Regions from separate parts of the Homo sapiens genome. Here all the other regions are linked to region 2. Evidence: fine-mapped expression QTL. A gene starts in region 2. Each other region holds a variant in brackets. All regions are shown on one strand. Distances are from middle to middle.

Region 1 (4,242 bases), 63 kb before region 2:
TTTGAAGTCATGTGATCATTATAAACTATGAACAATAAAAACTGATAGCTTTCTGGCTCATTAGTCTTGCAGGGGCACACAAAATTACCTCATTGATAAACATATCGATCCAAAAATGGGAGTACCAAGTTCTGGTCTCTTATGACAGAACTTATCTTAGTTCATAAAATATTTTCCAGAAAAAGTTTCAAGGAAGACAGCATATTCACATGTCATTTTATATTGGGGCCTTTCTATTTGGAAGATAGTACACAAATGCTGTTTTAAAACTGCTAACAGACATGAAGTAAAGTGACTTGAGTTTAGCCACAGGGCTCAGATAATTGACCTGCATTCTTCTGTTCCCAACAACATGAGAAACCTACGCAGAGGTCAACTTCCCCTTCTTTCTGGTTTTAGGTATTCATCTGTCCTTTTTCTTCTAAGGATCTCTCTTTCCACCTAACAACCAAAACCCTTTTCCACATTGAGGGGAGCCCTGCTCCAACTCTGTGAGAACGCCCGAGTGCTATCTGTGCATGTGTGGTGACTGAGGAGAGGACAAGGAGCACTTGAAATACCTGTATTTCTCCATATCCTCTGCAGAGAACTCTCCTGCCCACTTCCCTTCTAAGTAAGTCACAGAACAACAGGAAATCAAAAGGCTCGGGACAGGGAAGAAAAGAAGAGAGTGTGTGCATCTGTCCTGTTTTACCCTCTATGAGGCATTAAAAACAGGACTACGCAGATGCAAACAATTATAAATACATGGGCTACATTCAAACAGAGCAGCCCTTAGGAAGGTCTGAAATGTCTAAAAATTAACAGAACTTCTCATAATGAGTCATAGTCACTTAACTAGTCACTGCACCACACGCACTCTGCTTCCAGAAAAGTAGGTCTTCGACTCTGAAGCCTGGAGCTATGAAGCATCACTGAGGCACCTCCCTATTATCTTTCACTAGCCCTGCTGGGTGACCTGTGCTCACCCGAGGCCTCCCTGGCTCAGTGATGCTTCCATCCAAGTCCTGGAAGGATAGCTAGCTTTCTCCTTTTCACCTCTGGTTGACCACCTTACTGTCAGACCAGAACTTGCTGAAGAATGAAAAAAACTGATTTGATTTTTGGGTTTTTTCTCTTCAGTTCCCTACTAAACTCTAGATCTGCTTCTTAAAAAGTCATCTAGATAGATATGTTTATAAGAAGAACAGATTTTTTAAAACTCAATTATGTAGGAGAAAGGGAAGGGCATGGGGTAAAGAGACATTTATAGAGCATAAGAATTATGCCCAAAAGGCTATTTCTTTATAACAAAATGAACTGAAGGTATTTTTTTCACTGCTATATTTTCTTTTTCTTTCTTCTCTAACACCTTCATGGAGAATAGTTGCCATATTTTAAAATAAATAACAATGGATATTCTACTCACTATGGAAGCACCATGTGTCTACACTGTGACAGGGGACAATGGAGGGTAGCCAGGTTCTTGCCCACATGAAATTCACAGTCTAATACATCCTTTCATTTCATTTCTCAACTCACAAGTGCATTTCCAGAGAAAGAAACAAAATCCTGACACTAAGTAAACTTGCCCATGGTCAGTGAGCGGCAAGGCAGGGATTCAAACCAGGTCTCCTGACTCTAAAGCCGCGTTCTCGTCCCTCCACTGTGCTGAAAGTCCTTAAGTAGCAGCAAATGGTCATTTTGACTCCCATCTTTCACTTTCCAGTCATTGTTTCATAACCTTCAACACAGACTAAACCTGCTACTTTTTTTAGTAACATTATTTAAAGGATAGATGGTTAATTTATCAATGAAAATCTCTGAGTATTTATAGGAACAAAATTATATGTTCTTGATTATATGGAATAGCTTCATTGTTTTCGGGGACAGTAAGACTCTTAAAATTATTTTATTCAGAAATCACAGATCAGGAAAGCCCAAAGAGATTATAATCATCATAGTCTATAATGTGCCAAGATTCAGAAAGCCCCAGAAGATTCTTTAGACAGAATTATTCCTGAGAACAAGCTCAGCCCTCTCCTAGTATGCTCAGCCCCAAATTCTTCATAGGCCTAAGACATATGAGAAAAGGCAAAAAGCTTCCTGGGGGCTTCTGCTATTTCATTTCAGACATACCTGAATTCGGCAGTTGCTGTAAAGGATTCATGTTCTGTGATTGAGAACACAAGAAGAAACCCTTCCCCACTCCGAAAGTAGTTATCTCGAATGGCTGCGTAGTCCTCTTGCCCAGCGGTGTCCAGAATATCTATCTGAACTTCTTCCCCATCAAGAACCACTTTCTTTCTATAACTGTCAGCTTTGGTAGGTTCATAGTCTTCTACAAACTGAGGAAATAAACATTATCGGTAATTAACAAAGTCTTAAGGGGAA[C/T]AAAATCTGCCAAAAAACAAAATTCCACATATGGGCACTTCACACTATGAACAGGACACTACAGAAGCAACATTTTACGTAACACTTCTGTTCTTTATAGCTCTGTTTTGCCATTTTTTGTTTTTAAACAATACAGGCAGATATCCCAATTTACAGATGAGGAAACCAGGCACAGAGCAGAACACTTGGCAATATTATTGTCAGTATAAAATTTTAATGCAAACACCTGCAAGGGTGAGAAACTGGAATTCTTTTTTAATTATACTTTAAGTTTTAGGGTACATATGCACAATGTGCAGGTTTGTTACACATGTATACACGTGTCATGTTGGTGTGCTGCACCCATTAACTCGTCATTTAACATTAGGTATATCAAAAAACTGGAGTTCTTATTCATAACGGAAGTATAAAATTCATCTGAAAAGTAATTTGGCAAGATGTATGATATGGTCTGGTTCTGCATCCCCACCCAAATCTCATCATTTAGGTTGTAATCCGAATTATCATCCCAATGTGTTGGGGAAGTGACCTTATGGGAGACAATGAGATCATGGGGGCGGTACCCCTATGCTGTTCTTGTGATAGTGAGTTCGTTCTCACAGGACCTGATGGTTTCATAAGGGGCTTTTCCCCACTTCGCTCTGCACTTCTTCCTGGCGCCTTGTGAAGGACATGTTTGCTCCCCCTTCTGCCATGATTGTAAGTTTCCTGAGGCCTCCCCAGCCCTGTGGAAGAAAAGAGGCTATACACCTCTTTTCTTTATAAACTACCCAGTCTTGGGTATTTCTTCACAGCATCAAGAGAATGAACTAACACAGTGTACCAAGAGGCTTTCAGTGGTGTGGGTTTTTGAGAAAGGAATGAAGTAGTACCAACGCACGCTGCAACATGGAACAACTTTCAAAACATGATGCTGAGTGAAAGAAGTTAGACATAAAGGCCACATATTGTATGATTCCATCTATATGAAATGTCCAGAATAGGCAAATCCATAGAAGCAGAAAGCAGTTGCCAGAGGCCAGGGGTGGGACGGGGAAGCAATAACGGGGAATGACTACTAATACGTAGGTTGGTTTTTTTTGGAGTGATGAAAGTGATCTAAAATTAGATAATGGTGATGGTTGCACATCTGTATGAATATACAAAAAAAACCTATTAAATTGTACACTTTAGGCCGGGGCAGGCAGATCACCTGAGGTCAGGAGTTCGAGACCAGCCTGGCTAACATGGTGAAAACCCATCTCTACTAAAAATACAAAAGATTAGCCAGGTATGGTGGTGCACACCTGTAATCCCAGCTACTCAGGAGGCTGAGGCAGGAGAATCACTTGAACCTGGGAAGTGGCGCTTGCAGTGAACCAAGATCGTGCCATTGCACTCCAGCCTAGGCAACAAGAGAAAAACTACATCTCAAAAAAAAAAAATTGTACACTTTAAAAAGAGCGAATTTCATATGTGCATTACATCTTAATAAGGCTGTGATTTAAAATTTTTTTAACTTAAAAATGGAATTGAAAATGTCCAAGTGAATTAAAGGTTATTTGAGGAAGACTGTTAAAAAGAGCCTTGTATTGTCAGTTAACAGCTACTCAAAAATAAAAATATTAAGACATGTTTAGTATTAGGTTCTCTTCAACGTGTACTAATAAATTATCTCCAAATAGAGATGTGAAAACTTGCCTGTGCTTTCAAGTGTCCTTCTTTTAACTCCTTTCCAAAAAGAAAAATACACGCCAAAAAAATCCAACACACGACTGTCCCCTGAAAATCTCTGAATTCTACCATAAATTATCTCAACTGTATATTTCTGAGCTTCCAAGGATAAAGCCAGCCAGAGTTCCACTGGCTCCTTTGACACAGAAGTCAGAA
Region 2 (4,242 bases):
AAGACAAAGGCGGGTGTCTGAGAGACTGGCCGCATCAGGGAAAACAGTGAAGGAGGGGTGTCTGATGCCCAGGGCATGATGGGGGAGGGGTCAAGGCCTGCAGGCCAAAGGAAGCCAGCTGGGGACAGATGGCAGACAGCATCCCTCACCCTGTGGCACAAGCCTGGAAGCTGGGTCTGCCCTCCCTCAGGAGCTGTGCAGCAGAGCCACTGTTGCACTGTGACAGGACACCTTGATACCCGCTTCTTGGATGGAGAGGGTGCACTTGTTCTGAATGAGGAGCTCAAGGTGGGAAAATAAGCTCCGAGCTCTGTCTTTGCCACAAAGATGGCAGCAGAGGCCCTGAGTTCATCTGACTACATAGGTGATTGGGAAGGACTTCTGACTGTTCTCGCAGGGTCCAGAGGACCTGACTCTGCCACCAGCTCCCGGAGGGTGGGGGCGCTCCTGGCAGCGCCTCCCCTCCACGGGCTCTGCTTTCCTAGTGGGGTCAAATCAATTACTTGCAGGTCTCTAAATGCAAAGTGCAAAGTTCCATGTATTGATTCATCTAATCCTCAAAACAATCCTGTGTGCTTTTCCAAGCCCATTTCACAGATGAAGAGGTTGGATTGGTGAGGGGGTTTTCCACTTTTACAAATTTTTAGTTGACAAATCCTTCTTGGGAGAAAAGAGTACAAAAAAGACCAATGTGTAAAACAGACAGATTGGAGCAACTCTGTTTAGGGGAGGAATGGAGGGAGATAAGGCTCTCCAGAAACAAGAGGCCCTGAAGACACATCTATGAAGTCAGCCTTAAGGGCTGAGCCTGAGGACTGGTGAAGCTCACTCAGCTGGACTCCCTTCCCCAGGGCCACAGATTGCCTGTGGCTGAAGTGAAGTTGTGGAGAGCGCCTCGGGGGCTGGGACTGTCCGCCCGACACCTGGACACCCTGCTCATGCCCGCCTGGGGCAGTGCTGTGAGGGTGCGGGAGGGCCACTCCGCGGAGGCCCTGACAGGCCATGCGTTCCTCTGATGGCCTGTCCCACTTCAGAGCCCAGGACCTGCGTGACAACATCCCACAGCCACTTCAGGAAAAGAGGACTAGGAGAGACTGGTGAGGGCAGCCAGGGCTCTGCTGAGCAGTGGGACAGCGGGGAAGACAGAAATCCTCCAGGGTCTGCCCAGATGGCCAGAGGGCGAAAGGGGTGCTCCAAATCACAGACCCGCTGCAGCCTTGCCCTTAGACACCACCCAGGTCTGTCCCCCAACTTCATAGACCAGGAAACTGAGGCCCAGAGAGAAAGAGGTGAATTTGCCTAGGTTTCTCAGCTGATGGGTGGCACGGCCTGGACAAGAACCCAAATCTCTTGACCTCTGGTCCAGTACCCTTTTCCAAAGGAAAAGGAAAACATGGTTTTGCGAGAATAACACAGAGACAGGGCCAAATAAGTCAAAATGAGGACTAGACACTTGAAGGTAGGAGCCCTGTATCTGCGACGCGATTCTCTGTTAACCTGCCGGGTGACCTGGGGCAGAAAGCAACCCCCAACCCTGGTCTGGATCCAGTTTCCTCCCGAGTGGGGTCTAACACCCTCACCAGCACCTTCCACTCTGGAGTGAGAGGGACAGGTACAAGAGCGCCGCTGCCGCCTGGGATCTCTGCACAGCCACTTCGCAGGCAGCCTGAGAAACGTCCGTTGCTCCACCAGGCGGAGTTCTGCCCCGCGAGTCTTCATCCCAGGTAAGGCCCCCCCACCTCGTGCCCTGAGTCTACGCGCGGGCCTTTTCCTTTGAGCCAGGGATACACCCGCCGCCGGCCCCCACAGGTCTGCGCTCATGCACATCGCCTTGCATCCGTTCAGTTACCGGCACCCGCTCCCTCGCTCGCAAACTCCCGCACTAGCCCGGCCACCGCCTCTGCTCGCGCGCGCGGGGTGCTGGAGCCTCACCGCGGGCGCTCTAGCCCCGGGCGGGTTCCCGGGAAGCCGCGGCGAGCGCGGGGAGGCGAGGATCCCGGCAGAGATGGGTAGGGTGCCAACGCCCAGGCCCCGCCCTCTCCACCCGGCCCCGCCCCCGCAGGGCCCGCCCCGGCCGGCAGGGAGGATGTGAGCTCACTCCCGCCTCCATGTTCCCGGAGTCGCCTGGAAGCGTCCGCCCAAGGTCGCGGGCCGCTTGGGGAGTCAGCAGCGCGCCAGGCCCCTTCGGGCCCCACACGCATTAGGTGCCTTCTTGATGGGTACGGAGTGAACGCGGGCGGCGGCGGGACCGAGGCAGCGCCCAGTTTGTAACCGCCGCGCCGCCCGTGCCCGCGCGCGCCACACCCCAGCGCGCTTCCGGCCGGGCCACGTGACCGCGCGTGCACGTGTTCCGGCCTCTCCGCTTCGCCGCTCCGAACCTCCTCCTGGTCGTCCCGGCATTCGTCCACGCGGAGCCGGCTTGGGCGGGGCCCGGGAGGCGGCGGCCGGAGAAGCCGCGGAGACGCGAGCGCCGAGCGTCGCGAGGGAGCAGGCCCGGGCAGGCAAGCGGCGGCCTCCGCCATGAACCCCAGGGGCCTGTTCCAGGACTTCAACCCCAGTAAGTTTCTCATCTACACCTGCCTGCTGCTCTTCTCGGTGCTGCTGCCCCTCCGCCTGGACGGCATCATCCAATGGAGCTACTGGGCCGTCTTTGCCCCCATATGGCTGTGGAAGCTTCTAGTCGTCGCAGGCGCCTCCGTGGGCGCGGGCGTTTGGGCCCGCAACCCTCGCTACCGCACCGAGGGAGAGGCCTGTGTGGAGTTCAAAGCCATGCTGATCGCTGTGGGCATCCACCTGCTGCTGCTCATGTTCGAAGTCCTGGTCTGCGACAGGGTGGAGAGGGGCACCCACTTCTGGCTGCTGGTCTTCATGCCTCTCTTCTTCGTGTCCCCCGTGTCCGTGGCTGCCTGCGTCTGGGGCTTTCGACACGATAGGTCGCTGGAGCTGGAGATCCTGTGCTCGGTCAACATCCTGCAGTTCATCTTCATCGCCCTAAAGCTGGACAGGATTATTCACTGGCCGTGGCTGGTGGTGTTTGTGCCCCTGTGGATCCTCATGTCGTTCCTTTGCCTGGTCGTCCTCTATTACATCGTCTGGTCCCTCCTGTTCCTGCGGTCCCTGGATGTGGTTGCCGAGCAGCGGAGAACACACGTGACCATGGCTATCAGTTGGATAACGATTGTCGTGCCTCTGCTCACTTTTGAGGTCCTGCTGGTTCACAGATTGGATGGCCACAATACATTCTCCTACGTCTCCATATTTGTCCCCCTTTGGCTTTCCTTACTAACTTTAATGGCCACAACATTTAGGCGAAAGGGGGGCAATCATTGGTGGTTTGGCATTCGCAGAGACTTCTGTCAGTTTCTGCTTGAAATTTTCCCATTTTTAAGAGAATATGGGAACATTTCATATGATCTCCATCACGAAGATAGTGAAGATGCTGAAGAAACATCAGTTCCAGAAGCTCCGAAAATTGCTCCAATATTTGGAAAGAAGGCCAGAGTAGTTATAACCCAGAGCCCTGGGAAATACGTTCCCCCCCCTCCCAAGTTAAATATTGATATGCCAGATTAAACTCCTAGAGAGGACCCAGGCACACACAGACTCCACTTGGCCTTCGCCTCTTGTTCATTCATCCCAAACCTGGAAATGGAAACAGGCTTCAAACACTCGTCTCACGCCGTGTTTGAGATCACCGCCTCATCAGTATGCATCATAGATGGAGGTGGTTTCAGTATGTGGGTGTGTGTGATGTGTACCTGGGTAAGAGACTTGCTTTCCAGGTTCGCACTTTCAGGTGTAGCTGGGGGCAGTAAGTCGAATTGTTTTAGTAGGTCCTCAAAAGGAATAACCACACAGCTGTTTGTTTAAATGCTACTGTACCTATCAAAACTATTGTTTAAAAAGTATTTTTATACACTGCTAATCTAAAATTGTATTTCAGATTGTGCCTGTCATAACAATAGCAAATGTAAAAAGTTCTCTTTCCCACCACTTGTTTATAAACCTCATAGTTGATATTTTTAGTGTTCCTACTGTTAAAATACTCTCTCCTTGGGCTTTGCTGATACTGGTCTTTAATATTCTGATAGGTGAATTTTTCTAATGGAATGAACCCATGCATATATAGTATTTATATGAATATTTTAGCAGTGTAATATGTTGAATTCTAGTTCTCTGCATTACCATTATTACGTTAAAGTATTTTTTAAAGCTTAGGTGTGAAGATATGTGTCTATTGCA
Region 3 (4,242 bases), 560 kb after region 2:
GGCTCAAGTGATCCTTCCACCTCAGCCTCCCAAGTAGCTGGGCATGGGCCACCATGCCCGGCCAATTTTTGTGTTTTTTGTAGAGGCAGGTTTTCACCATGTTGCCCAGGGTGGTCTTGAACTCCTGGGCTCAAGGGATCTACCTGCCTCAGCCTCCCAAAGTGCAGGGACTACAGGTGTGAGCCACCATACCCAGCCTCAAAAAACATTTATTGAGAGCCTGCATTGTGCCAAACATCTTGCTGCATGCTGGGGATACAGAAATGAGTAAGACATGGCTGCTGCTGGGTGGGGCAAACTTGCCAGCTGATTTCTTTAGAGCAAAGGACATTTGCTAATTTGTATTTTTTTCTATATTACATGTTTTAAAGAATAAGCAATTAAGTAAAATACAAATATCATCACATAATATCTTTACTCTTAGAGACTCCAAAGCTGAAAGTTTAAATAAAAAGTTAAAAAATGTAAATCTGTAATATTTTCATTGATTACCATGTAGTAGAGAGAAGAGTGGACTGGGTACCAGGATCATGGCTCACTGCAGCCTTGACTACCTGGGCTCAGGTGAGCCTCCCACCCCAGCCCCCCAGGTAGCTGGGACTACAGGTACACACCACCACGCCTGGCTAGGCAACGAAACCTTTGCAGGAAACCAAGATCCTGCCCAAACCTGGCTCTTCTGCTAATTGGGTAAGTCCATGAAGCTTTCTGGGCCTGAGTTTCTGCATAAAATCACACTAATAACAGCTACTTTATGTCTTAGAATGTTTTGAGGATCATTGAGAAAATACTTCACAAACCGGAAGTTCTAGAAAGGAAAGCAATAATAATCACTTCTAAAATGAAGCTGCTTGGCCAGGCATGGTGGCTCATGCCTGTAATCCCAGCACTTTGAGAGGCTGAGGCGGGTGGATCACTTGAAGTCAGGAGTTTGAGACAAGCCTGGCCAATATGGTGAAACCCCATCTGTACTAAAAATAGAAAAATTAGCCGGGCGTGGTGGCGGGTCCCTGTAATCCCAGCTACTTGAGAGGCTGAGGCAGGAGAATCGCTGGAACCTGGGAGGCAGAGGTTGCAGTGAGCCGAGATTGTGCCACTGCACTCCAGCCTAGGTGACAGAGCAAGACTCTGCCTCAAAAGAAAAAAAAATGAAGTGACTGCAGTGAAGTATCCCGATTCTTCGGTTACAGGTATCTTTGGCCTTAGAAGGAGAATGGCATGATAACCCGAGTTAATGCAAGACAGGGGAACTGGCAGGTCTTCAGAAACAGCTGTTGAACCCAGGGATACTCATTCCCTTGGCCAGCCCCTGATTATGGCCATGGTCTCTAAGGAACCCGGATGATTGATCCCATAGGGAGTCCCCAAACATCACGTGGTCAACGATTTCACCGAAGGAACTTTTTCTGATGGACTCATTATGGAAGAAAATACATATAAGCCTTCTTTGCCTTTTCCACCTAAAAGTGGTCTGAAACAAGGAAGAAAAGCACAGATGATGATCTGATAAATATTATTTGGAAGTCGATTTGGTGGAAACGGGTTACAACTTGGGAGTCAGGAGAGGCCTTTCTTGTGGCAACCACCAGGTGGCACCAGATCCCCAACACAGTCAATACAATCTTTCCAAGGGGCCACGACCTTTTCAACCTGGGGAGAGCAGGGAAATAAGAGAAATTGGCTCTTGTTTATAGGTGGGGAAACTGAAATGGACATAAGTACATGCACTGACATGGGAACAGGCTCAAAGTCTGGAGCCAGAAAGTTCACACCAACAATGCAATGTGGGGCACCCAGCAAGAAAGGGAGATTGGGTAGGTGGAAGTAGCCAGGGATTCAGTAGCTGCTGGTTGGATGTTGGTGAACGAAGTGATGTGCACAGCATGGTATTAAGCGTGGATGCTGAGGGAAGCAATTCCCTGAACAAACATTGCCTGGGCCCTTCCTCTCCACAGAAGCAGGGACTAGGTAGGCCTTGCCTCAGAGGTCAGTACAGGGGCCAAGGGGCAGAGGCCTGGGGAAACCTTAGGTGAGAAGGACACTAAGCAAGAAGGTGGTGAGGTCATAGGGAATAGCATGTGCAGAGGCCCAGGGGTGCGGACGAGTGGGTTATGCTTCGGAAACTGCTAGTAGGTCAGGCCAGTGACTGGTTAATGTGGAGGAGGAATGCAGAGGAGCACATGGGAGCCCTTGGGGGCCTTAAAAATTACCCACAAGAAGGATAAACCAGAAACTAAAGAGATGGTTGCCCACAGTGGGAAGGGTGGGTACCCATGGGGCAGCAAGATGGCGGAATGGAGATGGATTGGGAATGAGAAGGAATGATACTTCTCTGAGTATCTTTGTATTTAGAGCCAT[C/T]GTAATGTTCCACGTACCCTGAAATAAATAATTAAACCCAACTAGCGTGTAGGGGAACCCAAGATGAAATACAAACAGTAACACATGAACCTAACTCATATGAAAACACAACCACACTGATGGGAGTAGGAGACAAAGAAAGCAACAGAACCAGCCCAGGCAATTCGGGAACCAGTATTTTAACTGGACTCTATAAAGCCAAAGTAAAAAGGACACCAATACTGTAATGTAGTTAGTAAATGTGTTTCTCGCAAGGAGATGTGTTAGCAAATGGGATGTTACTTTACGGATACACCAAGCAACACATAAGGTAATACATCGTAGATGATGGGAGCTAAGCTGCTCACTGTAGGGGAAAGAAGTTACAATTAAGGAAAGGAGGAAGGCCAAAACAAACCCCAGGTGTTGGACTGGAATTGGAAGCATCAGTATCAATGCGTTTTTTTTTTTTTCTTTTTCTTTTTTTTTTTTGAGACAGGCTCTCATTCTGTCACCAGGGCTGGAGTGCAGTGGTGTGATCATGGCTCACTGCAGCCTCGACTTCCTGGGCTCAGGTGATCTTTCCACCTCAGCCTCCCAGGTAGCTGGGACTACAGGTGTTTGCCACCATGCCTGGCTAAATTTTCTGTATTTTTGTATTTTTAGTAGAGATGAGGTTTTGCCATGTTGCCCAGGCTGGTCTCAAACTCCTAGGCTCAAGCGATCTGCTCACCTTGGCCTTCCAAAGTGCTAGCATTACAGGCGTGAGCCACCACGCCTGGCCATAATTCATGTTTTTTGATATATATACAAGACATAAAGATAGAGAGATGAAAATGTGTGTGTGTGTGTGTGTGTGTGTGCGTGTTGAGGGGGGCTCAGTATAAATACTTGTATTTTCTAGCTCTGGCCACTGAGAGGGCTCGGAAGCAATTGGACCACAGTAGCAACAAGTACCAGTTGCTGTAGCAGGTCTTGATTTCTAAATGCCATTCTCCAGTGAAAGGAACCAGGGCTCCTTGGAGAAATGGTTGATTCCAGGGCTGACGTGGGAAAGATACAGATGAGTCTGGAATATACTGTGATGCTGGAAGGTAAAGATGTGCTTAGGAAAGGTCGAGGATGCACTGAAAGGTCAGAGGTGTAACCTGAGGGGCTCCCAATGGCCAGAGCTGGAACAATTTGAGAACAAAATAAACAACGGTAGTGTTGGATTATAACCTATATAATAAAATAAATGTCCATGATTCCATGCTGATATAAAAATCTACTGAATAAAGAAGTAACTAAATGACGGTGAGGGACAGCTCATGGACATTATCATTAAGTGGACATCATGGTAATGGTTGTGGCAGACAAGACCCACTCACCAATGGATGCTAAAGTGGGAATTCATATAAAGATACGTAGATACAGAGTGGGAAAAAAGCTGAGGAGAAACAGGATGTTTGCATAATCTCAAAGTCTCTCCCCATGATTATATTAATGTCCCAGTGGAGAAACTTGGCAGACACCACTTTAGCCAAGCAACCAAGGTAAACATCACCAGTAAGAAGACATATCGACATCACAAGCCCCTTGATAAGATGCACCAAGAAGGACATAACGCTTCTGTGGAATTCTTGCAAAAATGCATAACCTCACCCTAGTCTTGGGAAAGCATTAGACACACACACACTCTGAAGGCCAGTCTACAAAACAACTGTCAAAGGTGTCAAGGTCACAAATGATGAGAAAAGACTGAGGGACTGTCACAGATGAGGAGAAGAAGGGGACACGTTGACCAATCGCAGTGTGGACTCCTGGAACACTGAACGGACATTACTCAATAAAGCTGTACCGATTGTAATTTCCTGTTTCTGATCATTGTCACGCAGGAGATGTTAATGTTAGAGGAATCTGAGT

Evidence for each region. PIP is the estimated chance that this variant, and not a neighbour inherited with it, causes the effect. A credible set is the group of variants that fine-mapping cannot tell apart.
Region 1: its variant is the best candidate, but not a certain one, in a credible set for the expression of TMEM185B in whole blood (INTERVAL, PIP 0.60).
Region 3: its variant is the best candidate, but not a certain one, in a credible set for the expression of TMEM185B in whole blood (TOPMed, PIP 0.57).

The regions. Positions count from the first base shown.
Region 1 is chr2:120,283,959-120,288,200 of GRCh38, reverse strand. It overlaps RALB (RAS like proto-oncogene B), which reads right to left. Exons shown (of 5, transcript NM_002881.3): 3 at 2,119-2,327. Among named protein-coding and RNA genes, the nearest start is that of RALB, 33 kb to the right of the region's middle. RefSeq lists enhancers at 492-661, 4,055-4,242. The variant C/T (reference allele first, on the strand shown) is at 2,374.
Region 2 is chr2:120,221,255-120,225,496 of GRCh38, reverse strand. TMEM185B (transmembrane protein 185B) reads left to right here and starts at 2,097. Exons shown (of 1, transcript NM_024121.3): 1 at 2,097-4,242. The coding sequence starts at 2,521. The coding sequence ends at 3,573. RefSeq lists an enhancer at 1,141-1,804 and silencers at 1,899-2,059, 1,779-2,148, 2,299-2,498.
Region 3 is chr2:119,657,578-119,661,819 of GRCh38, reverse strand. It overlaps a transcript of CFAP221 not described here. Among named protein-coding and RNA genes, the nearest start is that of TMEM177, 20 kb to the left of the region's middle. The variant C/T (reference allele first, on the strand shown) is at 2,359.